Homo sapiens: one gene and its partners. The protein of the gene in region 1 interacts with the protein of each later gene in a biochemical or structural test. Each region holds a gene or a part of one and is shown in the gene's direction. Other genes may lie near its edges. The genes, in order: ETV6, FLI1, FBXL6 and L3MBTL1.

What was found.
Region 2: the proteins of ETV6 (region 1) and FLI1 form a complex in vitro, tested with the Homo sapiens proteins (one study listed by BioGRID).
Region 3: the proteins of ETV6 (region 1) and FBXL6 form a complex in vitro, tested with the Homo sapiens proteins (one study listed by BioGRID).
Region 4: the proteins of ETV6 (region 1) and L3MBTL1 form a complex in vitro, tested with the Homo sapiens proteins (one study listed by BioGRID).

The regions. Positions count from the first base shown.
Region 1 is NC_000012.12:11,645,210-11,652,684, forward strand, and holds the start of ETV6 (transcription factor ETV6), read left to right. Parts: upstream 1-4,464; 5' UTR 4,465-4,918; coding exon 4,919-4,951; intron 4,952-7,475. UniProt on the Homo sapiens protein: Transcriptional repressor; binds to the DNA sequence 5'-CCGGAAGT-3'. Plays a role in hematopoiesis and malignant transformation.
Region 2 is NC_000011.10:128,689,688-128,697,089, forward strand, and holds the start of FLI1 (Friend leukemia integration 1 transcription factor), read left to right. Parts: upstream 1-4,384; 5' UTR 4,385-4,571; coding exon 4,572-4,589; intron 4,590-6,225; exon of another isoform or gene 6,226-6,336; intron 6,337-6,772; exon of another isoform or gene 6,773-6,792; intron 6,793-7,402. UniProt on the Homo sapiens protein: Sequence-specific transcriptional activator. Recognizes the DNA sequence 5'-C[CA]GGAAGT-3'.
Region 3 is NC_000008.11:144,355,466-144,362,871, reverse strand, and holds the start of FBXL6 (F-box/LRR-repeat protein 6), read left to right. Parts: upstream 1-4,399; 5' UTR 4,400-4,424; coding exon 4,425-4,840; intron 4,841-5,085; coding exon 5,086-5,244; intron 5,245-5,369; coding exon 5,370-5,433; intron 5,434-5,750; coding exon 5,751-5,882; intron 5,883-5,956; coding exon 5,957-6,064; intron 6,065-6,158; coding exon 6,159-6,272; intron 6,273-6,340; coding exon 6,341-6,572; intron 6,573-6,657; coding exon 6,658-6,904; intron 6,905-7,193; coding exon 7,194-7,341; 3' UTR 7,342-7,406. Other genes in the region: SLC52A2 (solute carrier family 52, riboflavin transporter, member 2), read right to left, coding at 1,857-2,069, 2,159-2,282, 2,379-3,249, 3,449-3,578.
Region 4 is NC_000020.11:43,503,400-43,510,710, forward strand, and holds the start of L3MBTL1 (lethal(3)malignant brain tumor-like protein 1), read left to right. Parts: upstream 1-4,297; 5' UTR 4,298-4,345; intron 4,346-7,311. UniProt on the Homo sapiens protein: Polycomb group (PcG) protein that specifically recognizes and binds mono- and dimethyllysine residues on target proteins, thereby acting as a 'reader' of a network of post-translational modifications.

The DNA.
Region 1 (7,475 bases):
CATTGCACTCCAGCCTGGGAGACAGAGCAAGAAAGTAAATAATGAATTACATAGGCTTAACGGTAAATTGGAAAAAATCAGAGGAAGAAAACTTAGAAAGAAATAAGTAGAAAGCGTTCAAATTGAAACAAGGCAGGTGTGGTGGCTAGCACTGTAATCTCACTTTGAAAGCTAAGACAGGAGGATTGCTTGAGAACAGGAGTTCGAGACCAGCCTGAGCTGATCTCAAAAAAAAAAAAAAGGAAATACAAGGAAATAAAACAGAGTATTTGAGATACATGGAACAATAATATATGGTCTAATACTTGTATTAAGAATAAAAAAAGGAAACAGAATGGGTGTAAAAATATTCAAACAGATAATAAATGACAATTTTCTAAAACTAATGAAAGATACCAACCCACAGATCCAATAACTGCAGCTGACATCAAGGTGAATAAATGATAAATGCAAAGAAAACCACTCCTGTGTACATCATAGTCAAAATTCTGAAAACCTAATTTAAAGAGCAGATCTTAAAAGCAGCTACAGAAAAAAGTGTACACTGTACACAGGGGCACCAAAATATGTACTACAAGTGATTTTTTAGCAAAATATGAAGTCAGAAGAGGAATGACATGTTTAAAGTGCTGAAAGAAAAGAAAATGTCAACATAAAATTTTACGTACAGTAAAAATACCCTTCAAAAGTGAACATGAACTAAAGACATTTAGAGGCAGACAAAAGCTGAGAGACTTCTCCAACAAACAGCACACAGGCTATGCTGAGTGAAGTTCTTGAGGCCAAAGGGAAGATACCAGATGGAAAACCAGATCTGCAAAAAGGAATAAAAAAGTACTAGAAAGGATAAATATCTGGGCAAATTAAAAAGAGACATACTTTAATACATTCATTATATGCATATATTTACAAATTTCTAAATACCATAAAAATACAATGTAAAATGAATTTTATAACATATAGAAGTAAAATATAACACAACAATACAGAGGATGGGAGAGGGATAAATGGAATTACATTGTAACTTTTTTACAGATTCATAAAATAGAATAATATTATTTAAAGGTAGCCTGTGATAATAACATACGCAAATTGTAATTTCTAAAGCAACCACCATATTTAACATAAAGAAGAAAATCTAAAAAGACAATCTAGTAATTTAAATGGAATATGAAAGAAAAAAATCCAATTTACCCATAAGTTCTCAGAAAACAAGGAACAGAGAAACAAGCGACAAATGGAAATGAATGAATGAGAAAAACTTCCCTCAACCACTGTTATTGAACACTGAATGGCTCTGCAAATAAGCTTTTACTACAGACTCAATAATGTTTCTTTATGAATTTAACCTAAAACTACAAGGCAAAATAGAGCTTATATGCAAAACTTAAACTGCAGTAAAATCATTTTGACACAACTAACATTGTTTGAATCACAAATAATGTCAAGCTGTTTTACACACTTCTCATGCTGTCAAAAGTTAAAACAAGAAGCAAGATCTCCATTCCAACACAAATTTGCAGCAGTTATGTTTTTCTGAACTCAAACTACAGTACCAACAGTGTTTTCTGAATTTCAATGCAAGTGCAAAGGAAATTTTCATATTTAAAATTTACTTAACTGTGCAACTGAGAAGCTTCCATTTAACCTTCAACTGGAAGTGATTAATCTGCAATGTAATGGCATGCTAAAGGGGAAATATCAAGAGAATTTATAGAATTCTAATAGAATTTTAGAAATGCCTTCTAAGCAATGAATACACTCAAGTAAAATCATGTGCTCATGGGTTGGTATCAGTATTTGGCGGTATCTGTCTGGGTAGAAAGACATTTCAAAAATGAAGTACATAAAATCTCATAAAAAATCAGCATTAATAGATGAACATCTGCAGTCAATTTTTATGAAAGAACACTTTGAACACCAAGTGAAATGTTACTTTCCCCCCAAAAGAATTCCATGCCTTTCATTATTATACCTGTATTAAAATTGCTATTATTACACTTTGAATTGACAAAATAAAAAACTGTGGACTTTTTTTTCTTCGTGTTATATAAGTATCTACCTGACATTCTCAATTTTGTCTCTTGGCCCACAAAGACTAAGGCATTTACAGCTGGGCCCTTTACAGAGATTGGCAACCCCTGGTCTAAATGTAGTTTTTGCTACAGTTGTCAACTATGTTTTTTGCTTTGGAACCACAAACATTCTACTTCAAACTACTACTTCTATGAATCACTTGTAGACGTTGAGGAGGAGTTAGGAAGAAAAGTCGAGAACTAATTTAGTCCTGGGGTTAAATAATAATTGTAGCCAACTTGAATTGAGCACATATATTGTGCAGCTCTCTGCTAAGGAGGCATTTGTATATATTTTCTTATTTAATAAGATAATCTTATGAGCTAGGTACTATTTCTCCCCATTTTACAGAAGCTTAGTGACTGTGTTGTCAGGGATCACATTGCTAAGTGATGTGGAAGACATAACCTAGCAATGGGACATCTAAACCAATGTCTGCAACATCAATTAAGAAAAGCAAAAGAGGCCGGGCGCGGTGGCTCACGCCTGTAATCCCAGCAATTTGGGAGGCCGAAGTGGGTGGATCACGAGGTCAGGAGATTGAGACCACGGTGAAACCCCGTCTCTACTAAAAATACAAAAAAGATTAGCCGGGCGCGGTGGCGGGCACCTGTAGTCCCAGCTACTCGGGAGGCTGAAGCAGGAGAATGACGTGAACCCGGGAGGCGGAGCTTCCAGTGAGCCGATATCGTACCACTGCACTCCAGCCTGGGCGACATAGCAGACTCCGTCTTAAAAAAAAAAAAAAAAAAGCAAAAGAATACAGAAAATTGTTAAAGGGGAGAAGGGGGTGGTCAAAGGCAGAGGAGTCGGTGTGGACAAGACAGAGATCTCTTGGAGAGAGGGCAGGACTACCAGTTGACAAAACCTGTTCAGGTTCCTGGAGGCTCACAACCACCAGTTCCCATCATCCCAGCAACAGCACTCTTTCCCACCCTAGCCTCGTTCGTAATGATCTGATCAATGTGTGAACAAAAATATTGTGTGTACAAGTCTCAACACATTTGATAATGTGAAGAGGTGAAGGAAAGTGGGTAGGAAAAATCTGTAGGGTGGGGAGACTCGGGGAAATGTGTCCTGGTCCAGTGCAGGTAACATATATGGGTATATATGCGTATATACATATTTATACCATATTTAATATATTACTCTATTAAGAAATTATAACAAATTTCCTTTTACATTACACATCCACATATTAAACCCCCAATATGTGCTAACAAGGTTAGAATTTAAGTATAATGATAATGTTCTCAGTTTTTTGTGGTGGACACTTTAAGAGAGTGTAAATAATAATAAAAATAATAGAGTGATCAGATCACTTGTGCTCAGGGCTAGACCCTTCAGCCCCAACGGCCTTAACCCCCCTCAACTGCTTTTCCAACCAAATATTCCTCCCCCTGCAGGATCCCAGGGCCATCCAATCAACCGGCCAATGACGGTTTCAGAGAAGCGGTCCTGGGGAGGGGTATTATCTGCAGGAACACGTCCTGCCAACTTTGTAGTCGAGTCACCTATTTCGGTTGGTAGCGGCCGCTATTTCTTTAAAAGGGCAGTGGATTTCGAAACAGGAGGGGGAGGTCAGGAAAAGGAACTCAGCTGCCTTTGATAACTGCCCTGCAGCCTTCCCTTCCCGGAGCGCGTGCTCGGCTCGGGAAGCGCCCGCGGCCGCCGCATCCCCGAGCGGGCGCGTGGCGCCACCTCTTTCCGGGGCGCCCACCTTCCCCGGGAATCCCCCCGCCCGACGGTCCCCCAGCGTCTGCGGCGCGGCCGCCCCGGCTTTGTCTCCGGCGTCGCGCTCGGGCGCCCGCTCTCCCCACATTTCCCCGTGTGCAGGCTGTAACCCGATCTCCCATTTCCTGGTGGATTCTCTTAAAGAGGCAGCGGTCGAGAAGCAGAACAAAGGCTATTGTTTTATTTCCTCCTTCGGATTCCGCGTCCTAACCGGAATGGCCCTTCATAGATAATTACTTTCGTTGCATCTGCGCTTAGTGAAACGTTTCAAAACCCTTGTGCACATCGATGTATCCAAGAGACGGAGCCAGGGGAGGTGGGAGGAGTTTAATAAAACCTGTTTTGTGGTGTCTGGGGCCACAATGTAACGTTTTTTAAAGGTGTCTTCCTTAAGCCCGGAAATTGGCTCGGCCAGCGGGAGGTCTCGCGGCGTGGAGGGCGGGCGCCCGCACCGGGGGCCGGCCTGGGGGGCTGCGCCGCTCGCCCCGCTCGCAGCCGCGGCCCCACGCGGCCCCGCTACCCGGGTTTCCTCCGCCCGCGCCCCCGCGGCCGCCCCTCCCCCGCGCAGCTTTTATTTCCCCGATGCCGGGCTGTAACCCGAGCTTTTATTTCCTGGTGGCTCCTTTAAGAGGCAGAGCTCAGTGCTGGGAATTCACGTCAGTTTCTGCACTGAAACTCTCAAGATCAATGAGCAAAGAGCTTTCTCAGTTCTGCCTTTCAGTTTCTCTCTTCCAGGAAGGAAAACATTCGAGAGAGCGAGGGAGAGCCGCGGGAGGGCGGGGGGCGGGGGCGCCGGCTGCGGGTGGGAGGAGAGACCGGGAGGCCGGCCGGGCTGCGTCCCGGGTCCCCGCGCCGCGCCGCGACCTGCAGACCCCGCCGCCGCGCTCGGGCCCGTCTCCCACGCCCCCGCCGCCCCGCGCGCCCAACTCCGCCGGCCGCCCCGCCCCGCCCCGCGCGCTCCAGACCCCCGGGGCGGCTGCCGGGAGAGATGCTGGAAGAAACTTCTTAAATGACCGCGTCTGGCTGGCCGTGGAGCCTTTCTGGGTTGGGGAGAGGAAAGGAAAGTGGAAAAAACCTGAGAACTTCCTGATCTCTCTCGCTGTGAGACATGTCTGAGACTCCTGCTCAGTGTAGCATTAAGGTAAAAATCTTCTCCCCTCCTTCTACGTGGTGGAAACCCTGAGCTGCACCGGCCAGGGCAGTCGTGCTGGGCTCCTCAGAGCAGGCTGTTGCAGTTGCTCTGTTCGCAGGAAATTATTTGGGGCGAGAGGGAAAGAGATGCAGCTCGCGGTGGCTGCTGTACCCTTTAGCGTAACCTTGCTACTCCCCCCCACCGCCGAGCCCCTGCCGGCTCCTCGGCCCCCACCCCCTTGCTTTTTGACAATGAAATGCCGGTCACAATTGGTCAGAGCAACCCGGATTGTCTCCAGAACCGTAAAACACCCCCGTAATTAGTGCGCTTAAAAAAAAAAAAAACAAAAAACAAAAAAAAAAAACCTGCTCCCTATTCCTACACCCAACATGTGACTGAAATATAACTTTTGTTCCCGAGGGGTGGTCGTCTTAGAAAAAAAGTTGTTCAGTTTCCACTGCGATAGAATCTTTTTATTTTTTTAAAGGACTCTCTGGGTCTGATCAGACAGGATTTTTTTCCCCCTCGTCTGATTGTAATTGCAAGCGCTGTCGGAGAGACAGTCCTGGTGTCAGCTTTTCCTAGGCATTGCACAATGAATTTTTTTTTAAAACCAAGGTGAATAAAGTTGCTGAATAGTTATTTTACTCCGATCCATATGAAAGTTGAGCAATCCCAAAGTAGAAAACTCCTGTGATGGAGGGAGAGGAAGAACTAAGCAACCAGGCAAAATGACCTTCTGTGTTTGACAGTGCAGAGAGGCTATCTAAGCAGCACTCTGTAAATGCAGGGCGGTAGATGTTTGTAAACACACTGCTGGGCTACCCAGTAGTTGTGTGTATGCATGTCTATATATCTGTAAAGACTGTGGTGCTGCGGTTTGTTGCTTCTAAAAAGTTGTTGTAAAGTTTGCCACCATTGGGAGGCAGGATGATTTATCCATCTACCCGTGTTATTTTTCCCATCGCTGCATTTATTGTACACTTTATTCATTTCGCTGTTCCACCAGTACCCAGGTAGAAAGCCTTCCGCTCTTGTGAGAGGCTGAAGCTGCTGAAGTTTGTTTTTGGTTTGGCCTATTTAATGTGTGTTCACTGAATGGACACTACAGCAACAATGAACAAATAACCTGTTTTCTTCGTCTGTGGGGAGTTAGAAAAACCCTTCCTGGTTTAACACTGCCTTTCAATTAGAGTCTGTGTAGGGGAAACGCAGTAGTTCATCATACGTGCTTACTAGGTTTTTTATAATTAGAATCACATTTTGGTGTTTCTTATCAGAAAAGATATTCATGGGTTTGAGGATAGGCTAATGTGAAATCAAAAGGTGGTTTGGGCTTCTTTGTTTTTGCCTCACAAAAATGCCTAATGGAACTTTTAGGCTTTTGTGTTTGTACATAACTGGAGGTAGCAGTATGTATGTCTGTGGGCATGGGGCGTGCCACACTAAAGAACTTAGGGTACTTTGATATTAATACTTCAAAACCAGTTTCTTTTGCGGTATAAATTAGATTCTACACAGAGTTCAGGAAAATCCTGCGGTATAGATAATCTAATTTATTTGACGCTTCATAACATAGAGGTAACTAAATAGTAGGATATTCAATAAATAAATTGTATTTGGCTCAGTGGCAATAAACCCGACATCAGGAAAATCTGCCAACTACAGATCAGTAACTTTAGGGCAAAAACAACAAAAAACAATGCTTTCTGTGACGTTTCTTGATCCTCTTCTATACTGCATCCCCACCGTTTTGATGGGCTTATGGTGGTGTGCTGGCTGCAGACTGCTACTGAGTGGTTTGTTTCATTGTGCTCCAGTCGGAAAAAGAGTACAACAGTCCCTTGCCTTACTCACATACAGAACCAATCCCAAGCAAAACGCGTTCTTAAATGCAACATGAAAATTGTCTGTAATTTGCATATCATTTTTTTCCTTATTGCTTACAACTCAGTTCTTTCAGGGTGCCTCTTTTCATTACTGTGTACTTCTATGTAATTAAAATAGATTTAATGTTCTTTACCAGAAAGGAAAGAATCACTTTTATTTTGGATCGTTCTTTATGGAACGAGTATGTATTTGCTTAGACTGCATGTGTCTAGGTGAACGTATGTGAAGAGTATCTTTCCATGGAGTTTGTTTAATTCAGTGTTCCAATAATAAGCACTAGAGATCAAGGACTGGGATTATTCCAGGTCATCTGAAATGTTCTGGTGATGTGTGCTGCGTTTCATTTAGTCCTTGGGATGTGGTACGGTGACTGCATAATAAAAAATGTTTGCTGGTAACCCACAAGCAAGTTGCTTGCTTCTAGAGTCCAGTAAACAATATGCTTTTCTGTGTAGTGAAGAACGAATGTCAGAGGTTTTCAAGGATGAGCTGATGAACCTGATATACCGAACTCCTGTGACACAAAAGGCTCTCACTGTGGAGAGGTTTTTCCCAGTCCTCCTCTCCACTCCTGAAACCGTCCTCACTTGCTTTCATTCCTTACAAGTAGCGGGTCAGCAGGCAGACAGTTCCTCAGCGGCTG
Region 2 (7,402 bases), on another chromosome or scaffold:
TCCCAACGGCCCCATCTTGGATCCGCCACTGGGCGAGGGTCTGGACACCTGGCTGGTCTCCACCTCTTGTCAGCCTGCTCTCTCTGGTCAGGATTGGACTCCCTCGGGGTTTCCTCAGCGACGCCGCGTGGTCTGGGGGCTCGGAGACCCTCCTCCTCCCCAACCCGCCCGCCCCCGGCCCTCCCGCCGCCGCGGCCTCCCACGTAGCGTTCTGAACCCGCTCAGCGCTAAGGCAAGAACCAGCGTGGGGAGCGGGCCAGGCGAGCAGAGGCTCTAAATCTTCCTTCACTCTGTGAGTAGATGAAGTCTGAGAAACAAATTCAAAGCAGGCGCGCCTGCAGAGCCTTCCTGCAGAAATATTCCCCGGCATTCAAGCGCATCCAGGGGCGGCTTGAGCTGCCTTGTTTGGCTAAGGTCAGACGAGACTCGAGTTCTCCAATAAAAATAAATCTCAAATTAATTATGGCCTCGAGCGAGAGGCCAGACACTTGAAGCTGCATTTGTGCAGTCTGGAGTTTTGGCGCTTGCCCGCCCACCCCTCCGGTTTTCTCCCGCCCTCTCCTCCTCCCCCTTTGCCAGCTCGGATACCCGCTGCGGCCTCGCTGGACCAGAGGGGCATGGGAGGGGAGGACGAAGGACGGAGGGAGAGGAGCGGCCCGAGACATTCTGCCAGGCCTGGCATCCTGCGGAGTTTCAAGTGACGGAGCCACCCCTGGGTCTGTTACCCCAGGGACCAGGCTCAGATCGTCAGGTCCGCCCACCCCAAACCCAGTCTGGGGCCGAAGAAGCCCGGGAAGCCCGTGTCTGGAAAGTCTTGACCGGGTCAAAAGGGCTGACATTGAGCGAGCCAAGACACGTTTCGACCCGCCGCTCCCCTCCCGGGGGAAGCAGGACTTCCGCATCTTTGAAAATACTGTCAAGTGCGAATGGTGCGAGGCAAGTCGTCTCACCAGCGTTCCAAATGAAAATGCTCCAAATCCAAATATTTCCTGAGTATTCACGCCCATGTGCACGGTTTCTGTAAGTGACCCCAGACTTGGAAACATGTGGTGGGCTGTTTTGTTGTTGGGACATTTTTTTCTCCAGTTGGTAGCTTTTGTTTTAAATACTGGGAAGAGCTTCCTTGGCTGTGAGCTGCCTCTGACTTGAAAACCAGCCCCGAGCTGCTGGAAAGTGAGCTGTCGCCGATGGCACTCATACCAGCTCCTGTTCAGCAGCTCTGCCCAGTCTGGGAAAGGGCGAGGCCATTGGAGCCATGGTAAGCCAGGAAAGAGGGTGTGCACAAGTGTGTGGGCAGGGGCAGCCTTCCCCAAGCTGGGCCCAGAGACTAAGGAAAGAGGAAGGAGAGAAGAGAGGAGGGAGAGGAGAGGGAAGGGGAGGTCTGCCCCACTAACACAAGACAGTTTTCATTTGTAGGCCCTCACCGCAGGCTCTCTATCAATTTGTCTCAATGCAAACATTCAAAATATCCCCTTTGGCTGCTCGTGAAAACAATGTGAGCTGCCAGGATCAAACCATCTTTCCAGATGTCTGGTGGTAACCACATTAAACAGGGTAGACTTGTTTACTATTGTGCTTGGTTAGGGCGCTTCCCCCATCCCCTTTCAGGATTTAAAAAAGCAGCAGTAGCAGTGGAGTTGACCATCAAACCCTGAGTTACATAAAAGTGGGGCAAACTGACCTACGGGCATGCCAACACTGGATGGAGGAAATCCGAGATTCCCGCAGGCATCTAGTCAGAGTTAGGTGGGGTCTTCTTTCTGGGTGGAGACCTCTGTGAATGGACAGGAGCTTCTCCCAGGGGGCTGAAAATCGCCAACAACAGTGGCACCAGTGCCAGTCTGTGAGTCCCAAAGGGCCGGGGTGCCTGTGTCTATGCATCTAGTGGTGCCTGTGCCAGGCTCTCCACTACCCCCCGCCCATCTCCAAAACCATGAAATTGCCGTAGCTTTGGAGAAACAGAAAGTGCGATGGAGTTCCACAGTTAAAAACTAAAGGGCAAGTCTTCAATTTAATCTAGTTCCATATTGAATAATTCCAGTGGGGGAGGCAGCTGGTGCTGAAAGGAATTGGGGGACAGTATAGGAATGTTCGGGTGACTACTGATTAATGTAGTGAAGATGATCTGTCACTTGCCAGACCAACAGGAGTTGGAAAGAGAAACCTAGCCATGGTGTCTGCCACAGAGGGACCCTCTAAAGTGCTAGGAGGAGGGTGGGGGGCAGTCGCCACCTGTGGGATGCCATGAACAGCCTCTGCAACTGGCCAGCACCAGGAAGGGGGGCCTCCTGGTGGTGGAGTTGGAGTCCTTTCTGGCTGAATGAGGAGCAATGTGGCTGGGGTGTGCGGGTTTCTGGTGAGGTCCGGGTGGGAAGCCGTCTCTCCGCATTCTCCTGAAAGCTCTGTTGTAGTTTGAAGGTCGGTAGAGCCTGGGCTGAAAAGGAAACAATTTGGGGTTTGAAAGGATGTAATTCATTCTTCCTTTCCCGTTAACCTCTTTCCTCTCTGGAAAGCACGTGGAAACGCTGAAGGGAGGAGTGAGAGGGCAGGCAGCCTGCCGCGGGGAGGAAAGGGTTAAGCCTGATTTCTTTTAATTGAACTCCAGAACTGGTGGCCCCAGGCAAAGGGGGGGACTGACCCCGCTAGCGGTAACCAGATGTGGCGGTCCCAGGGGAGCCCCGGAGCAGACCCCTGGATTGAGAAGCAGACAGGAGCGGGGGGAGTCAGCCCGGCCCCCATCCCACCATCCACCCCACCCCCACCCCCAACACGCACACCAAGTCTCAATTGCTGGCAGGCTGCACCCGCCACTCCAGGTCTGGTCACGTTCAGACCCGTGTCTGTATTCGAACCCAAAATTGGAGCCGAATTGATGAGACTAATTTCTAGAGAGGGAGGGGGAGGGAGGGAGACGAGTGAGCTCTCGGGCTCAATTGCTCCTGAAGAAATAAAGAATTAATAAGTCACCTTTTTTCGCCTCTGTGGACACCCTTTTGAAATTTTTTCTTCCAATTGACTTGGATCTCCTCTGGATTTTTTTTCCCTCTTTCCCCCGTCGGACTCTTAAATAAAAGTGAGCAAGTCCAAAGCGTGGTCCGGAGAGCGTGGACAAGGTAACCTGTTTTGGATGTCCGGGAGAAGGGAGTCCGGCCGAAAGGGCCCAGCCCCTCGAGGCTGCTCCAACTGGGGCGCGCGGCGGCCCAGGAGGGAGGCGGGGAGGTCTCCGGGTTGGGCCGGGGAACGCCGGCCTCCAGGCTGGGTAGGGAGGACGGTCCAGAGCGCGGGCCTCCGGGTCTCACCCCGGGAAAAGTCTGGGTCTGCTCTGCGCTGTTGCGTGCTGCGCTCCTGGGACCTGCTGACTGTCCTAGAGGGAACGTCCCGCGGTAGTGTCAGTTCCCTGGGGACCAGGAAGGGCGACTCTTGCCTGGGAGTCAGTGCTTGGGCCGTCGGGTCCGGGTAAGCGCTGGGGGTTTGGCTCGAGAAGATGCGGATAGGTGGCCTAGGGCGCCGCGGATCTCCGCCCTCTGCGGGCACCGGGAGCCCAGGGTCGAGGCGCGCCGCCCCGAGGGGCCCCTTCTCCTAACAATGCGCCCGGAATGGAGTCCGCGCCCTGACAGCGCGGGTCAGCCCGAAACCGCCCAGAATCCGCTTCGATGAGTGGGTGAGCCGCTCTGGGAGTCTGCCGCGTCTCGGCAGCGGAGGGCCTGAGTGGAAAAATTCTTATTGGATGCACTTTTTAATGGTTGGTTTGCCTCGGTTTTCGTCCGAGTCTTCCCCGGCAGTAGGCGCTGGGTTACCCGCAGCCCTAGCCAACTCTCCCTCCATACCCCCCCTACCCCACCCCCAAAAAGTTTGTCTCCGGCTGGAAAAAGCATTAATGAACGTATCTGTGGGAAGAAACGGAAAGTGAATGAGTCAGGAGGGCCACCTTCGGCCAACCGCCTCAGGAAAAGCAAAGAAGCCAAAGGTCTTTGGCTTTGGATTTTGGGGGAAGGTGATGGGGGGAGGTTCAGACTTCGGGAATCAGGGCGCGGACGCTGGGCGTGGACCCCGTCATTGTTCCCGGCTAGCTCTTATCTCCCAGGAGCAAGTATCCTGTGTGCGCAGCGCATGAATGTGTCTGGGCATCTCCGCGTATATTTATATAGTGTGTGATGCGAAAAGCAGGACCAGCAGGGGAGGAAGAGGGGGTGTGGGGGGGGAGGGAAGACGAGGGAGAGCAGAGGGGAGAGAAGAGAGAGGAGAGCTCGAGGCGAGAGAGAGAGAGAGAGAGAGAGAGAGAGAGAGAGAGAGAGAGAGAGAGAGATAGGACTTCCTCCCCGATTCGCAAAGTGAAGTCACTTCCCAAAATTAGCTGAAAAAAAAGTTTCATCCGGTTAACTGTCTCTTTCGCTCCGCTACAACAACAAACGTGCACAGGGGAGTGAGGGCAGGGCGCTCGCAGGGGGCACGCAGGGAGGGCCCAGGGCGCCAGGGAGGCCGCGCCGGGCTAATCCGAAGGGGCTGCGAGGTCAGGCTGTAACCGGGTCAATGTGTGGAATATTGGGGGGCTCGGCTGCAGACTTGGCCAAATGGACGGGACTATTAAGGTAAGCGGCGGGGCAACGGACGCGGGCGGCGGGGACCGGCCGGGGAGGCGAAGCGGCGGGCGGGTAGGTGCGGGGCCCGCGTCCCGGAAGACGTGGCCTCTCTCCCTTCCCTCCGCGCCCCGGCTTCGCGCCGGCTCCTCCGGCGCTCGGGTGGCGAGTCCTACTCGCGGGCCAGCCGGCCAGGCGCCCGCATTGAGGGCGACCCTCCCCCGAAATCCCAGCCCCCAAAGTGGAGCCCCGGCCCCCCTCCCACCTCGCTGCCCGCCGGGGCTGCAGGAGGGGACGGCGGGAAACCGGGGGACCCCAGGGTACGGAACGGAGTCAAGGGCGAGAGACCTCGGGGTCCACCACTCCCACCGACACCCGGGGCTCCCGTGGCCCCAGCGCTAGGCACTGGGCTTCCTCTCCGCAGAGGCGGAACACGGCGGGGGCGGGGGCTGCAGTCGCCCGGGCTCGGGTCCCTGCCTGGTGGGCCCTGGGGTGGGTAAGTGGCCTCGTTGCACGAGGGTAGGGGTGCAAGTGAGTGTGTCGGGGGATCTATCTGAGCGGGCTCCTCCAGATGGAAGCCCCTGTTTACATGTCAGCGCTTTCCCTTCCTCTCGGCACTCAGTCGCCCGGCTCTAGGCGCTGGAGAGCCGCCGGCTCCGCGGGACTCCTGGGCCGGCCTCGCCGCCTCTCCGGCGGGGAACCTTCCCCAGCCCCCGTCCGCACAGATCCCTAGCGCCCCGAGCCCCCGCCCTTCGCGCCTAGGCGTGCGCCGGCTCCAGGACCAGGGCTCCTGGAGCTGTCGCCTCCGAAAGGGTCCTGCGTCCTTCGGAGCCGCCTCCGTTGCAGGGGCCGGCTGTGAGCCCGCGCCCCGCGCCCGCCCGGCCATTCCCACCCCAGCCGCCGCCGCCAAGCCTGGGTCTAGGTTGCAAAGTGCAACCCAGGCGGAAAGGTGAGGGTTTGGGTTCGCGTCTCACTTCAGAAAAGTTGACTGCTGTCTCTGAAAGGGTTCGCCAAGTAGGGCCAGGAGCAGAGAGGAGGGACACCCCCTAACGTGACGGGCCTTAGAGGACCTAGGGGAATGAATGGGACCAGGGGTTAGCTTCGAGGCTGCCGCGCAACACCAAGCGGGAGTCTGTCTGGAAAAACTATTAGGCTGGCGAGGTGGGGACTGGCAGAGCCCGCCATTCCCCAGAACCCGAAAGAATCGACTCCCTGCTCAGGGCTCAGCAAGAGAAGGCTAAGATGTTGGGCTCAGAGAATTCAAGAGATTTTTATCTTCTGGGTGGGGTCGTGGTTTTTATTTTCTAAGTTTTTTTTATGAAAGTTTGAAATATGCTGACTTAGGTAAAAGACACCAACCGAAGGAACTTGCAAATCTGGAGATGAGATAACTGACTGTGATGGGTTAAAGGGAGCTATAAGAGCCTATAAGAGCCTGGGTTCCTCAAACCCAAAGTGAGTAGGTGAGAAGTAGGTGAGAGGGGATTCCTGCAAAGACCCGAGAGTGGGGGTCATTGGGCCATTTTATGCCTGTTTCTCTGCTTCCTGTTGATGTGTTCATGCAAGTGTCTCTGTATTTCTGGGTTTAGTAATGAGATGCTCCCCTCTAGAAAACTCCCTCGCCCCAATCAGGACAGTTACCACTTACTCTGAAGGCCTCTTCTGATCCAGAAGGGTGGTAAGATGGCCTCAGGGTCTTGATGTGGACACCCTAAGGAAAAGTGAAGAAATATCTCCACACTGCTTAAACTCTACGCACAGGCCCTGAGCAAAAGGAGGAAGCTGTGGTCTGTGTACCCAGGATGTGCTAACCTCTTTAGATACACACAGGGATTGGCATGGCAGGCCTCGAGAACAGGCTTAGAGCAGGAACCTGACACTTCAGGCCAAGGATGGGAGTGAAAGTCCTTCCTTTTTTTGTGGGTGGTAGGAGCCATGAGCTCCTCCAAACCCTCCCTGTGAGCAACCTGTCATTCACCTAAGTTACCTGGCTAGGCTGAGTCCCCACAGAGCTACCTTCAGTCTCCAAGCATTCTGCAAGATTGAGCCTTTAGTGTGTGTGTTGGTGTTTAAGTTGTGTGAAAGCCACAGTTTTCTGTTCGCATGTGACCTCTGGATCTTGGGGTTTCCAGATCCTGTTCCCACAATAGTTCAAATACTGTGCTTGGAGAGGACAGTGGACCAGGAGAGAGGCCAGCATTCTTCTGCTCTCTTGGTGAGAATGAACCGTCCATTAAGCCTGTTTGAGATTCATAGTCATCACAAAAATGAAACAGTGGAACTAGGTTACCTCTACAGTAGTATCTAACCAATCTTCTCAGTGCCTAAAATGTGCTCATATGTGTTTACAAGAACACTTGCCTGTATGTGCACTAAATCCAGCCCTACACTGATCGAGGTTGACGACACTCTAGAGAGAATCTAATTTGTGTACACAAATCCAGGGTGTCCATTTCCAGTTTGAACTGCCTGGAAAAATCAGGTTTGAGTGATTCTAGGATGTGATTTTATGCACCTGCATAGTTCTTCCTCAAATATAAGTCATGTCTATATTTCAAAATACCTGTGGGTCTTGGCACTTAGGTGGTATTTGGTGCAGGAAGCCAGGGAAGTCTGGATTTCTTCACAGAAGCCCTTTATTTTGTGCATAATTTGCACAACTCTATGTGATTACAAAATCCCAATCTTGTTGCCCTCCTTATAAGTCCCTCCATATTATATTCTCTTCTCTTTTCCAAGAACGGCTCCTGGAAAGGCTCTGACCGTCACATTGGGAGAAGCAATATTTGCTGGAGCCACGCTACTCTTTTGTCACAGACAGGTTA
Region 3 (7,406 bases), on another chromosome or scaffold:
GGTGGACAGGAGAGGGCAGGCCCCAAGCACCGGTGCTGATGGGGGTGGTGGCAAAGCGATGAGGGGAAGGGGGCAAGCATGAGACCAGGAGCCCTGTTGCCCACAGCCATGCCACCAAACCACCCACCTTGTCCCATCCTTGTCCTCATCCTCCCTCAGAAGCTTTCTTCTTTTACCAGGCGACTTCTGAAGCTCACACTCAACCTTCAGCCCCCACCCCCTAGAACCCTCAGTACCTGCAACCCCCAAAGGGAAGCAGCCGGGTCAGCTGGGCAGGGGCCCAGCCTCAGGCGGCAGCATCCTGGAAGGCTGGAGCTGGCAGTGGCCTCTGCCCTCAGAGTTGGGTGGTCCTGAGCCCCCCTGGGAGCTGGCCTGCCCCCTGATGTTTGATGGGGCCCAGACTAGAGGCTTTCCGGGTCACAGGGGCTCCTTCCTCCTCTGATGGTCCTGCCAAGACAGGAGGGAGCAGAAGTGGGGAGGAAGACCAGGCCTTCAAAGGCCCGTGTGCAGGCCAACTCAAGGACAATGAGAAAGGGCCTCCGCAGAGCGGAACCGTCGCAGACAGAGCTTGGGCAGCAGGAACAGACCCACCATCCCCAGTGCCTGCACGCTCCCTGTAGCTGCAGGGGCCCTTCTGCAGAAGTGGGGCCTCTTGCCTGGGAGAATGGGCCTTGCTGCCAGGCCCGTCATACTGATCACAGTTCGGTGTCCTGCCTCCCTGGGGTGGCGGCCCACGAGGTGAAGAAAGCCAGGCTCCTACCTTGGCGTGGTCTCTCCCAGCACTTTCTTCCAGATCCTTGCTCCCAGGCTCAGGGGCTCCTCTCAGTTAGTTCCTTTGCAGCTCCAGCTCTTTTTGTGGGAGCCCAAGAACCACCCAGCCCAGGATAGACCATGGTCAGTGCTGAGGTCCTGCTCCCTGCAGATGCCAACACATACAGGCCCAGGCTGCTCAGGGCTAGGGGCAGTGTGCCAGCAGCCCAGGGAGAAGACAGCTGTAGCCAAGTCTGCCTGAAGAAACAGTTTGGGGCCTTTGGGGGTCTGATTGCAGGAGGAGCTGTCACTGAGAGGGTGGAGGCTCAGGGGAGTGGGGTAATGCTCAGGCCAAACGGTCCCGATGGGCTAAAACCTTAAACTCTGTCTCTTCTGAGTCCCCCTCACTGAGTACCCCGGTGCCTGCACACCAACCCCCTGGTGTAAATCCCTAGCAGGATACTCCTGGGAAGCTAGCAGGCAAACAGTCACTCCAGGGCTAAGGGTGGACAGGGGGCTCGGCACATCGCAGCCCCATCCGACTAACCCTCAGCCCTTGAGAGGTGCTCGTGGAGCAGTGGCCTTGCCGGGAAGAGGCTCCTCTACTCCTCTGACCACCGAAGCTGGTAGCTCGTGTGGGCCCAGAGAGCCCAGGGCAGTTCCAAGAAGCAATGTGGGGTAGTCTGGGCTCAGAGGGCATGACTGTACAATCCGTGAGACCAGCCTGTGGTGGGTAAGGACCTGCCCAGGGCCTGGGGAGAGGCAGCCTGTTAAACAGGCCAGGCCATGGCTCTAGTTCAGGGAAGCATCCACACAGAGAGATGTGCTCAAAGAATTAATGCCAACTCATTAAATACAAATGTTTTATTACGCAAACCACATGTAGGTCCCAGGCTCAGGGGCTTACCCTACAGCCCCCACTGGTCCCTGGCTCCAAGCCTGCTCCTTGCCCTTGCCCACCCTGGAAAGCCAGGATCTCCTATGGAGTGTGTAGGTGTCCACGAGTGTACCGGTGTGCGGGCCTCCTGGGCTGCAGGCACTCAGGCATGGTGGCAGCATTGAGGGAAAGACAGGTGTTGGGGAGCGGGGTCCCCACCTGCCCAGGCTCAGGAGTCACAGGGGTCTGCACAGTCCTTTCTGCTGTGGAACACGTGATAGATGCTGGTCGGGGGGAACATAGCAACAGCGCCGAGCAGAGAGCCCACCTGGATGGCCACGCCGGCTGCCAGCAATGCCGGCCGGCCCCCGCCATGCAGCAGGGAGCTGGCTGCCACCTTCACGTAGGAGAACACGCCAAGACACAGCACCCACGACAGCACCTGAGGGGGACACAGCACCAGCTGAGCGTGAGATGTGCCTGCTCCAGGGCAACGCCCCCCCACCCCACTTCATGTCCCCCTGTGCTCACCACGAGGACCACCCCCGCCGAGGTGCCCACCAGGGGCGGGCAGGGGCTCAGGACTGCCAGCGCCATCAGGTAGCCCCCACAGAACACGCCCAGCAGAGAGAGGCCGCCCAGCCCTGCCAAGGACCTGCAGTGAGCGAGCAGAATGTCAGGGCTGACTGCGCCAGGACCTGGCTCCTAGCCCTGAGTTCCACCCGCACAGGGGCTGGGGGTCCTTGTGTACCTGCACAGCACACCCATGGCCAGGAAGCAGGCCAGGGGATTGGCAGCACTGCCCAGCACCACAGCCAGGTGGTAGGCCAGACGCCCGTAGGGTAAGCAGGAAAAGCTCTGCACGGCAGGCAGCACGCCATTGGTCAGCGCGTTGGTGGCGGCCAACAGGCCCAGCAGGCAGGCACTGCGGGCTGATAGAAGCTGATAGGCCTTAGGGTCTGGACCAGGGGTGGTGCCTGCTGCCTGGCTTGGTGGCTCTTGCAGTGGTGAGGACTCTTCCACCTCTTCCTCTGCTCCTGGGGCTCCCACCTGGAGGCCTGATCCTAACTCCCCTGTGGGTACAGATGGTGGTGGCGGCAACAGCAGCAGAAGACCCTGGAAGGCAGCAGCTGAAGCGACCAGAAGGGCAGTCAGTGCCCAGAAGAAGGTGCTGGCGGGAAAACGCTCAAGGAAGTCGAGCGGGGGGCCAGGGGTGCCGTTGATGGGGGCTGGCGGGCACTCGAGGCGGCCCACACCCTGCACTAGGGCCAGCACGCAGGGCAGCAGGGCACTCAGGCCTTGACCCAGGAAGAATGACCGTAAGAAGCGAGGTGGCAGGTGGCTCAAGAAGGGCAGGAAAGTGACATTCGAGGCACAGCATGCCAGTGCCAGCACAAAGGCCAGTGCTAAGAAGGCCACAGAATGCAACTGTCCTGCCACTGGGGCCACATGGTGCCACAGAGAGGCCAGCAGGGCTGTGCCCACCATGCCCAGCACCTGCACCACCCGGATGGGGACCTGCTCGTCCTTTCCTGGGGCCAGCCTCCTCCAGAGGGTCACCACCAGCAGACCCAGGTTCCCCAGAGCCACAAGCACAGAGACGTAAGAGGGGAGGCTCCAACCTGCAGGGAAGGGAGGAGGCCATGTCAGGGTCATGATGCCCAAGGGAGGAAGAGTGCCAAAGCCCACCTTCCTGGGCACACCTGCACCTCCTCCCACTCACCCTCTGGAAGCTCTCTGACCACCACAGGTAGCTCCACCCAGATCCCACTGACCGCAGCCCAGGAGTCTTGGGCACACCTGCACCTCCCTCCCACTCACCCTCTGGAAGCTCTTTGACCACCACAGGTAGCTCCACCCAGATCCCATTGACCGCAGCCCAGGAGCCCATGCCGAAGAGAGCCACCAGCAGGTGGGTCAGCACCGGACGGGCGGGCGTGGGTGCTGCCATTCAGCCCAAGGCTGGGCCCTTCCAGGTCAGGGCAAAGGTCACAGCCAGTTCTTTTCCCACCTAGGGCCAGACACGCTTTGGCTCTCCTGGGAAGTGAAGACTTCTTCTAGCTTGAAAGAAACAGAGAAACAGATAGGATGCAGAGCCGGAGTCAGAACAGGGTGAGACCAGGGGAACTGGGGGAGCCCCGGGCAGGAGCGCAGATGGGGAGGATTGGCTAAAACGTACCCAGCGGGACCGCCGGCAGGCAGGGAAGCAGGAAGCCGGCCCGAGTCGCTGCGGCCCCAGGGGAGGAGGCCGAAGGAGCGAGTGGAGCCCTCCTCTCCAGGGAGAGGCGGGGCTGGAGTCAACGCCACCACCACCCCAAGCCGGACGCCGGGAAAGGGCGCCTACCAGGAGGAGCCACGCACACCCCAGGGCTTCACGGTGCCCGCGACCGCAAGAGCCAAGTCAGATCCCAGGGGAGTGGCCGGGACGGCTCTGCTCGGAGGGGCGCCGCCCTCTCGGTACCGTCAGGTGGGCGACTCGGGAGCCGTCCGGTCCCTGCGCCTCCCGGTCCCGCGCCCAGTGCGCTCCCGCTCCAGTGCCGGCTTCCCGCCACGCCGGGACACCGCCGTCCGGCCCAGGGACGCCACCTCAGTCCGGAGCGCGCAGGACCCGGCAGCAGCCACGACCCGACTCACCCGTGGCGGTTCCGGGCCCGCCCCCGGCATGGCCCACGACCGGAAGTCCCGCCCCGGAAGCTGGTCGGCGGGCGGGCGGGCGTTGAGAGGAACCGGGGGGTTGTCGGTCTATAAGCCTCGCCCGTTCCGCTCCCTGGGGCTTCCCCGAGCGCCGTCGGTGGTCATGGCTGCCCCAGCCTCCCGGCAGGTCCGACGCAGAGCCCGGGCAGCGCCGCGGCCCCGCTCGGCCGAGGACTGGTGGTGGGACCGGCTGGCGCCGAGGGGCTCGGGGTACCACCTGCTGCAGTCCGACAGCATGCTGCTGGTGCTGTCCGAACCCGGCCCCGCCCGGCCCCGCGCACAGCGGCGCGCTTCCCGCCGCACTCCCCGGCAGCCGCCCCGGGGCCCCAGCGCCGCGGCCAAGCCCAAGGCCGGGCTCAGGTCCGAGGCGGCGGCCGCGCCCGCACCCGCACCGGCACCCACGCCCACGCCCGAGGAAGGGCCCGACGCGGGCTGGGGAGACCGCATTCCCTTGGAAATCCTGGTGCAGATTTTCGGGTTGTTGGTGGCGGCGGACGGCCCCATGCCCTTCCTGGGCAGGTAACGCTGGTGCCGGGCCCGCCGCCGAGCGTAGCGGCTTGGGCCAGACGTGGTCCGAGCGGTGGCCCGGGCGGGGGCGGAGGGCGAAAGCATCGGAGCGCGCACCGCTCAGTCCGAGAGCGCAGCCCCTTAGGCGCCCAGTTGGAGTCCCAGGAGCCCGGCTTTGAGCCGGGGTGTCTACTGCGCTGCGAGAGGGGGGCATCGCCTACGGAGGGGCCGGCACCCTCAGCACGCTGTCCTCCCAGGGCTGCGCGCGTGTGCCGCCGCTGGCAGGAGGCCGCTTCCCAACCCGCGCTCTGGCACACCGTGACCCTGTCGTCCCCGCTGGTCGGCCGGCCTGCCAAGGGCGGGGTCAAGGCGGAGAAGAAGCTCCTTGCTTCCCTGGAGTGGCTTATGCCCAATCGGTGAGGGGTTCCCTCTCTTCCTTACCCCTGGCTCCAGGCTCCTTCCGTCTCCCTGCACCAAGGTGTTGGGTGGGAAGGACTCGTGTGGGAACATTAGTGCAGCTCTGCCTCCGCTGTCGGCCCAGGTTTTCACAGCTCCAGAGGCTGACCCTCATCCACTGGAAGTCTCAGGTACACCCCGTGTTGAAGGTGAGAGCTCCAGGCTGTCCTGCACATCAGCTGTGACACTCTGGGACTGTTCAGTACTCTAGGAAGTGGGTCAGGCACCTTGGGGGCCCAACGCTGCTCCGTGGGGATGTCTGCCTGCCTGCCTGGTTCTCTTTTCCTGCTGTTTCCTCCAGCAGGGAGGTATCAGAGGCGGGGACACCCAAGTAGGCCTGGCATGGGCAGAAAGGAGGTCACAGCTAAGGCGGTAGAGTGGGGTTGGCACCAGCCACTTGTCTGTTTCCCTTGTGGATCTTAGCCTGTCGTCTCCCAACCCCAGCTGCCCCTCTGTCTCCCCGCAGCTGGTAGGTGAGTGCTGTCCTCGGCTCACTTTCCTCAAGCTCTCCGGCTGCCACGGTGTGACTGCTGACGCTCTGGTCATGCTAGCCAAAGCCTGCTGCCAGCTCCATAGCCTGGACCTACAGCACTCCATGGTGAGCCCTGTGTCCCAAGGGGCCCTGAAAAAACCCAGGCCGGGGTGACGGGTGCTCTTGTATTGGGGCCCCAGGTGGAGTCCACAGCTGTGGTGAGCTTCTTGGAGGAGGCAGGGTCCCGAATGCGCAAGTTGTGGCTGACCTACAGCTCCCAGACGACAGCCATCCTGGGCGCACTGCTGGTAAGTTGGCATTGGTGGGAGCAGAGGCAGATGCTGAGCTGGGGACTGCCAGGCCACTGACCCTGTGACCTACCCCCTCCCCCCATCTCTGCAGGGCAGCTGCTGCCCCCAGCTCCAGGTCCTGGAGGTGAGCACCGGCATCAACCGTAATAGCATTCCCCTTCAGCTGCCTGTCGAGGCTCTGCAGAAAGGCTGCCCTCAGCTCCAGGTACCTGGCGCCCTGCCTCTCCCACCTGTCACACCCTCCCCCATCTACAGCCTGGACCTTGCCCCCAGGTGCTGCGGCTGTTGAACCTGATGTGGCTGCCCAAGCCTCCGGGACGAGGGGTGGCTCCCGGACCAGGCTTCCCTAGCCTAGAGGAGCTCTGCCTGGCGAGCTCAACCTGCAACTTTGTGAGCAACGAGGTCCTGGGCCGCCTACTCCACGGCTCTCCCAACCTGCGCTTACTGGATCTTCGTGGCTGTGCGCGCATCACGCCGGCTGGCCTTCAGGATCTGCCATGTCGGGGTCAGCAGTCCTGGGTGGTGGCCGGGCGGGTGAGGTGTGGGGGCCCTTGTCACCTTGTAGCTTATGCTCACTCCTTTCACTGCAGAGCTGGAGCAGCTTCATCTGGGCCTGTATGGCACGTCAGACCGGCTGACTCTAGCCAAGGAGGGCAGCCCCTTTTTGACCCAGAAGTGGTGCCATACACTGCGAGAACTGGACTTGAGTGGCCAGGGGTTCAGTGAGAAGGACCTGGAGCAGGCCCTGGCTGCCTTCTTAAGCACCCCTGGGGGCTCACACCCAGCCCTGTGCTCTCTTAACCTCAGGGGCACCCGGGTCACACCAAGCACTGTCAGGTCAGCATCCCCTACCCCAGTCCCTGGAGCCAGTGTGGCTGTCACTGTGTCTGCCTGGGGCCTGGAAGTTGTGTCCTGCCTGGCCTGAGACCTCCAGGGGTCAGAGGGGCATGCATACTGTCCAAGCCCCTGCGTGGGGTGGGCCTGAGGACACCAGGGGAACTGGGCTTGGCCTTGGTGGCTATGGGTGGCAGAGCCAGGTGTCGAACACCAGCAGGCACAGCTCCCTAGCCTGGCCCAGCCCTTCTGAGGCAACAGCTCAACTTCCTGTGGTCTGCCCTCCCCACAGCTCTGTGATCAGCGGCTGCCCGGGCCTGCTCTACCTCAACCTGGAGTCCTGCCGCTGCCTTCCCCGGGGTCTGAAGCGGGCCTACCGGGGCCTGGAGGAAGTCCAGTGGTGTCTGGAGCAGCTGCTCACCAGCCCCTCACCCAGCTAGGCAGCCACAGACCTGGGACACCTCAGCCAGCTTGCCCACCCTCCACCTTTGCCCAATTTCAGATA
Region 4 (7,311 bases), on another chromosome or scaffold:
CCCCCCAGTCTTTATACATGGGCTTCAGTTCCAACTCTCAGGGCCACATGGACCCAAGGTTCCATCTCCCATCATTACATGTGTAGTAAAACCCAAGTCTCTAGCAGCTGGGTCCTGTCTGTATCCAACAACCACCTCCAGGACAAGAGAGACATCAGGCCACATCTTATTGCTCTGGTTCCCTTTTTGTTTTTGACTCCTGAGGATTTCCTCTTACACGTTCAGCAATGAATTTACTTTTTTTTTTTTGAAACGGAGTCTTGCTCTGTCACCCAGGCTGGAGCGCAGTGGCAGAATCTCAGCTCACTGCAAGCTCTGCCTCCCGGGTTCATGCCATTCTCCTGTCTCAGCCTCCTGAGTAGCTGGGACTACAGGCGCCCGCCACCACGCCCGGCTAATATTTTTATAATTATAGTAGAGACAGGGTTTCACCGTGTTAGCCAGAATAGTCTCAAGCTCTTGACCTCGTGATCCACCCGCCTCGGCCTCCCAAAATGCTGGGATTACAGGCATGAACCACCGCGCCCGGCCAGCAATGAATTTACTTTCTTTCCCTGTGTGCTTGCTTGCTTCCTTTCTTGTAATATAATAGGCAGGGTTTTCTGGTGTTTGTGTTAGAAAAGGTTCCCAGCCAGGCGCGGTGGCTCATGCCTGTAATCCTAGCACTTTGGGACGCCAACGCAGGAGGATCCCTTGAGCTTAGGAGTTTGAGACCAGCCTGGACAACACAGGGAGACCCTGTCTCTATTTTATGTAACTACATTTAAAAGATAAAAATAAAAAAAGTTTTTAAAACGTTCCATACTAGCTCAGTCTGACGTTGGAACCAGAAGTGTTTTTATACATAAAGGGCACATCCTGATGATTTCCCTAAAAATCTGCAGACAGTCTCAATGGTGAATGAAACTCTATTGTAGGAACAGAATGGTGTGGGCTGCTTAGAAACAACAGTTTTCTTTTGTTTGTTTGTTTTACATACAGGGTCTTGTTCTATTGCCCAGGTTGGAGTGCAGTGGTATGATCACAGCTCACTGCAGCCTTGACTTCCTGGGCTCAAGCAATCCTCCCATCTCAGCCTCCCAAGTAGCCAGGACTATAGGCATGTGCCATCACACCCAACTAATTTTTAATTTTTTTGTAGAGACTGGAGGGGGTCTGTCATTGATACAGGAGTGGGGCAGGGAAGTGCTGGGTAGAGAAAGGCAGGGTCCCTGGTGAGGGCCCCACCCATGGACCCAGGTGAAGACAGGCACTCCTGTTTTTGTGCCCAAATGTTGCATTTTCCAAGACCACTCTGGCCCGCACACCCCCCATCTTGTGCCTATATAAACCCCAATACCCTAGTGGGCACACATACAAATGGCTGGATATGGAGAGGAACACATCAGAAGAACACACGGACGCTGACAGGCCATCAACTGCAGAAGGATGCGGATGCCTAGGGAAATTCAGCTGAGGGTGGTTGAAGGAGAGCCAGGCAACTCCAGGGGAAGACCACCTTCCCACTCCATTCCCCTTCTGTTTCCCCATACATCTGCTGAGAGCAACCTCCACCATTCAATAAAACCTTGCACTCATTCTCCAAGCCCATGTGTAATCTGATTTTTCCAGTACACTAGGGCAAGAACCCAGGATACAGAAAACTCTCTGTCCTTTCAATAAGGCAGAGGGTCTAATTGAGCTGATTAAAACGAGCTGTCTACGGACGGCTAAACTGAAGAGCACACAGTAACACACGTCTACTGAGGCTTCGGGAGCTGTAAATACTCAACCCTAGATGCTGCTGTGGGGTTGGAGCCCACGCTCCCCACTACCTGCCCGTCTGTATGCTCCCCCTAGGGTTTGAGTTGCAGGGCACTGAGGAAGCAAGCCACTCCCCCGCTGTCACACACCCTGCTAGGGGGATAAGGGAACTTTTCTTGTTTCATTACTATGTTGACCAGGCTGGTCTTGAACTCCTGGCGTCAAGCAATCCTCCCACGTTGGCATAAGTGCTGGGATTACAGGTGTGAGCCACTATGCCTGGCGTAAACAACAGTCTTCTCAGTGCTTTGACTCATCAATATTTCAAAATATTTTGGGTCCATGCTTGAGCAGGGGGTTAACATGGAGAAGACAATGGGGGCTGTGAACTTGTGAAGAGGGGGCTATCACTTGAGGGGAGGACTGGACTTGCTTACTTGCTCCTGAAGGCAGACTGGTACTGGAAGGGGAAACTCTGGCTTCATGAGGCAGAAACTTCTCCAAATCATATTAACGTGGTAGCAGCTCTTCACCCCAGGATTTGGTGATCTTGATACCTGGTTTGTTTGTTTGACCCCTGTTCAAGCCAACAAGCCAGGTATCAAGACCACAAAAATACAGTTTTTTTCTTGGGTGAGGAGAGAGATTTTTTGTTTGTTTAGACAGGATTTCTCTCTGTTGCCCAGGCTGGAGTGCAGTGGCTCACTCATGGCCCACTTCAGCCTTGAGCTCCTGGACTCAAGCGACCCTCTCACCTCAGCCTCCCTAGTAGCTAGGGAGGACTACAGTTATGCGCCACCACACCCAGCTAATTTTTTTTTTTTTTTTTTTGTAGAGACAGGATTTTGCCATGTTGCCCAGGCTGGTCTCAAACTCCTGGGCTCAAGCAATCCTCCCACCTCAGCCTCCCAAAGTGCCGGGATTACAGGCGTGAGGCACAAAAATACTGTCGATAGCCAGAAAAATAATGTCTTAGCAACTCACATCCATGTTAGTTGTTTGTTTCTAGGTCTTGCTAGCTCAAATTCCACTTATCCGTCTTAATCACCATCTAAAAGATGCCTTTGTTTTTGAGAATCCATGTGTTTGTGTAGGTTCACCACTTTCTTTTAATCTTCTGAATACCTAAAATAAACCTTTGAAATCTAGATCACGCACAGTCTAGGTTGAGATGAGAGAATACTGAGCGGATGGTTGTGTATGTATCAATGTGTAGAAAAAGGCATCCATCGTTATGGCAACCAGCATCCTTAACTGATGCAATCCTGTTCCCAATAATATGAGATGTGATTAAAAATTGACATTGCAGCAAGGAAGAACACATGCAATGCGTTGGCGTGGCAACCGGAATAGTTAAATTCTGCATAAATTTAAACCTGTCGATCACAGCAATTTGGAGAATTTGCCTACATTTCATTAGGAACCCTTTTCTCATCTGGCCTGGGAGGGAATCAGGAGCCTGGTGGTCTGACATGTGGCCATGACTTAAGGCCAAGTAAAATCAAGGGATTAAATTAAATCATTGGTGTGGGAGAGGGGCTGGATGGTGGACTGTACCAAAAGTTACCCTGTTTTCATCTGCATACCCTACATCATTTAGTCACTCAACAGATATTTATTAAGCACCCACTCTGTGCCCCGCTCTGGGCTAGGTACTAGGAATACAAAAACTAATATTTCCTACCCTCTTGGAGCTTGAAACCTCTTAGCCTCTGGAATTACTCAAATCTATGTGAAGTGCCAGCTGTGGTATGTGTAAGCGAGACAGGTATCTTGTGTTACCAGAACCAATAACAAGGAGATTTGATTAATTAGAGAGATCAGGTGGAGGCGAAGAGATCAGTCAAAGTGAAGCAGAGAGGGGCAGTGATTGCTACACCACCACAGGAACCCAAACTGAAAACGACCATACGCCATGAAGTGGGTGATAGTCTTTACCAATGTCGAAATGGAGGACCTGGGGGATACTGATGTTACCCAGCCCTTCGCAGTGGGGTCACCCAAAAGTAGACGCGGCTAATGCCGCTCTTTATGCCCGGCAGGGCCAGGACCAGAGTCCCCGCACGAGGGTTCCTCTCTCCGGTCGCACGTGCCCTTCACCCTTCCTGAGGCCGTTTTCTGACGCTCCTGAGCTCCCCTCCAGGGTGAGGGCAGGCGCGGTGGGAAGGCGTTGGACAGAGCAGACACTCGGCTGGGGTGCATGCCTGGGTGCAGCCTCGTCTTTTGTCACTAACCACTCAGCTCGGTAGCCCTCCAGGCTCTCTCTTCGAGCTCCGCGGTCCCTGCGCCCCCGCTGCGCTCTGCTAGCTGTGATGCAGGGGTTCGGGGGCAGGAAAAATCTCGACCCGCCACGCCCGTGCGGCAAACCTGTCCTAGGTTGAGGGGGCATGAGGCGCGCACAACCAGGGCCTCGAAGGCAGGCAAGAGGGCGCGGGCGCCACAGAAGCCTGGGCCTGCGCCTGGGCCGGGCAGATGTGCCCGGCGCTCGGGCCCCGCGCTCTGCGTCCTGCAGGGAGGCGGACCCGCCCCCCGAACGCGCAGGCGCGCGGCGCCCGGCTCGGACCGTAGCTAGGCGCTGGGCGGCCACCGGCTGGCCAGGCAGGTAAGCAACCAGCGGTGCGTGGGCTCAGACCTTGCGTCCCCTGGGCGCCGCGCCACCCCGCTCCGTCCAGGGCGGCGAGGGCTCAGGTCTGCGGCCCCGGCGTCTCGCTCCTTCCGAGCGCCTCCGGCGGGGGGCGCGGGCTGGGGAGGAGGTTCGGGAAAACGCCGGGGAAAGCGGTCTGGGCGGAGCGCGCAGGGGGCCAGGCGGGTGCGGGACTCCAGGCCCAGCCGACCCTGCGGCGTGGCTTCGGGCTGCGATCAGGAGGGGCGAGGAGGGTGGAGGCTGCGTGTTTGGAGATACGCAATCAATTAAGAGTTTTTTTATTAATGGAAAGGTGTGGAGGGCGGGGTTTTGGTTTTCTTGGGAAATGAATGAGTCATTTGGCAAACTTTCCTACCATTAATTTTGGATTTTTATAATGGAATATGGAATTTTTTTTGTTTCTCTCTCTTTTTTTTTTTTTGGCCATAAAGAGAAAGAATAAAAAGAATTCCGCCATTTTAGCGTTTTAAAAAGTAACCGTTCTGCGGAACTGTCGGATCAGTGACCGCCCCGCCCGCCTTTGCCTATACCAGTCCCGGGAGGCTGGTGGCGGGTCCCGATCCTGGAACCCTGCGCTCAGGGCCGCTTCCGTCCCCTCCCGAGTCCGGGAAGCAGCTGCGGCGAGGGGCGGGGCCGAGGCCCCAAGTTTGTAGCGCTCAGCCTTGCTGTGTGTTGTTTTCTGGGTAGCTGTCGAGGGCTCTACTCCCCACCCAACACCTATAGTAAGGACATTTATTGGTCGTTTTTGTATACAAGGCCTTGGAAGGCAAGGGATTGAGAAAACCTTGTCAGACATCAAGAGAAAATACCCATGGACACATTCAGCCAACAGATATTTATTGAGCATCTGCTATGTGCACGGCTCTGGGCTGGGGCTACAATGGTTGTTTTAGGTCGGGTCCCCCGAAACAGACTCCGATAGCAAGATTTGAGTGTAGGTTTATCGGAGTGCTCTTGCGAATATCACCAGTAGGGGAATGACGGGTTGGGCGGAAGAAGAAGCTGAACTGCTGATGTAGTCTCAACAGAGGCCTCAGCCTGACCTAATGGAAGCTCTGGAACTGAGATGGCCCTGCAGAGGTGTTCCAAAGTAAGGCAAGGGGGTGGGGTCTTTACACCTCATAGCAACTCGTCATTGGCTGGCGGCTTCTAGGAGAGCCTTCAAGTGAGGTAGCTCCCTAGGCTCAGAGCAGTTCCAAGAGAGGCTGACGGCAGAAGGCTGAAAACTTTCTTCAGTGTCCACCAGAAACCCAGACTCTTCTGAGTCCCCCCTCACTTCATGGCAGACTCCTTCTCAGTCCCTTTTGCTAGACCCTTTTCCTCTTCCCAACCTATAAATGTGGGTGTGCTCCAAAGTTCCCACTTTTTTCTTTATACTCAGTTATGTGGTTTTTTCTTTTTTCTTTCTTTCTCTCTCTCTCCTTCCTTCCTTCCTCCCCTCCCCTCCCCTTTCTCTCTGACAGGGTCTTGCTCTGTCGCCCAGGCTCGAGTGTAGTGGTGTGATCATAGCTCACTGCAGCCTTTACCTCCCAGGCTCAAGCAACCCTCCCACCTCAGCCTCCCCAGTAGCTGGGACCACAGGGGTGCACCACCATGTTCAGCTAATTTTTAAAATCTTTTGTTGAGGCTGAGGCCTCACTATGTTGGCCATGCTGGTCTCAAACTCCTGGGCTCAAGTGATCCTCCCACCTTGGCCTCCCAAAGTGCTAGGATTACAGGCATGAGCCACCAGGCCTCGCCCCAGTTCTGTGGTTTTAAATGCCATCTACACATGCTGGTCTTCAAATTTATACCTCCAGCCCCAACCTCATCCATTATCTCCAGAATATAAGCTTCATGAGAGCATTTTGTCATGTTTGTGACTGTAACCCCAGAGCACAGAATGGTGGTGACACCTACTTGGTCCTCCCATGCTTGCTGGAAAAGAGGCAGCGAACCCAAACAGAAACGTAGTCTTCAAATCCAGCTTCTTCAATAGACCTGAGATGTGACAGGTTTTGACACAGAGTGAAATTCTTTCAGAAGTAACCACATTCACTCTTAACTGCCAGTGTTTCAAATAAAAAGATTAACTCTATTTATTTATTTATTTATTGAGACAGGGTCTCATTTTGTCACTCAGGCTGGAGTGCAGTGGCGCGATCTTGGCTCACTGCAACCTCCACCTCCTGGGTTCAAGGGATTCTCCTGCCTCAGCCTCCTGAGTAGCTGGGATAACAGGCGTGTGCCACCATGCCCAGCTAAATTTTTGTACTTTTGGTAGAGATGGAGTTTCAACATGTTGTCCAGGCTGGTTTTGAACTCCTGGCCTCAAGTGATTGGCCTCCCAAAGTGTTGGGATTACAGGTGTGAGCCACCACGCATGGCCTGCCTGGCTAACTTTTGTACTTTTTGTAGAGATGGGGTTTCACCATGTTGCCCAGGCTGGTCTCCAACTCCTGAGCTCAAAGCGATCCACCCACCTTGGCCTCCCAAAGTGCTGGGATTATAGGCGTGAGCCACCACGTCCAGCCTAACTCTAAAGGTATTTAAAATAGTACAAGTACTTCAGCTGTGCAAAGCAAATTGGAATTGAAATTCAGGGAATTATGTTTTATAATTTTCTTTCTTTCTTTCTTTCTTTTTTTTTTTTTTTTGAGGTGGAGTCTTATTCTGTTGCCCAGGCTGGAGTGCAGTGGCATGATCTTGGCTTACCGCAACCTCCACCTCCTGGGTTCAAGCAATTCTCCTGCCTCAGCCTCCCAAATAGCTGGGATTACAGGCGCCTGCCACCACACCTGGCTATTTTTTTTTTATTTTTTTGTGTTTTTAGTAGCAATGGGGTTTCACCATGTTGGTCAGACTGGTCTTGAACTCCTGACCTCAGGTGATCTACCCACCTCGGCTTCCCAAAGTGCTGGGATTAGAGGCGTGAGCCACTGCGC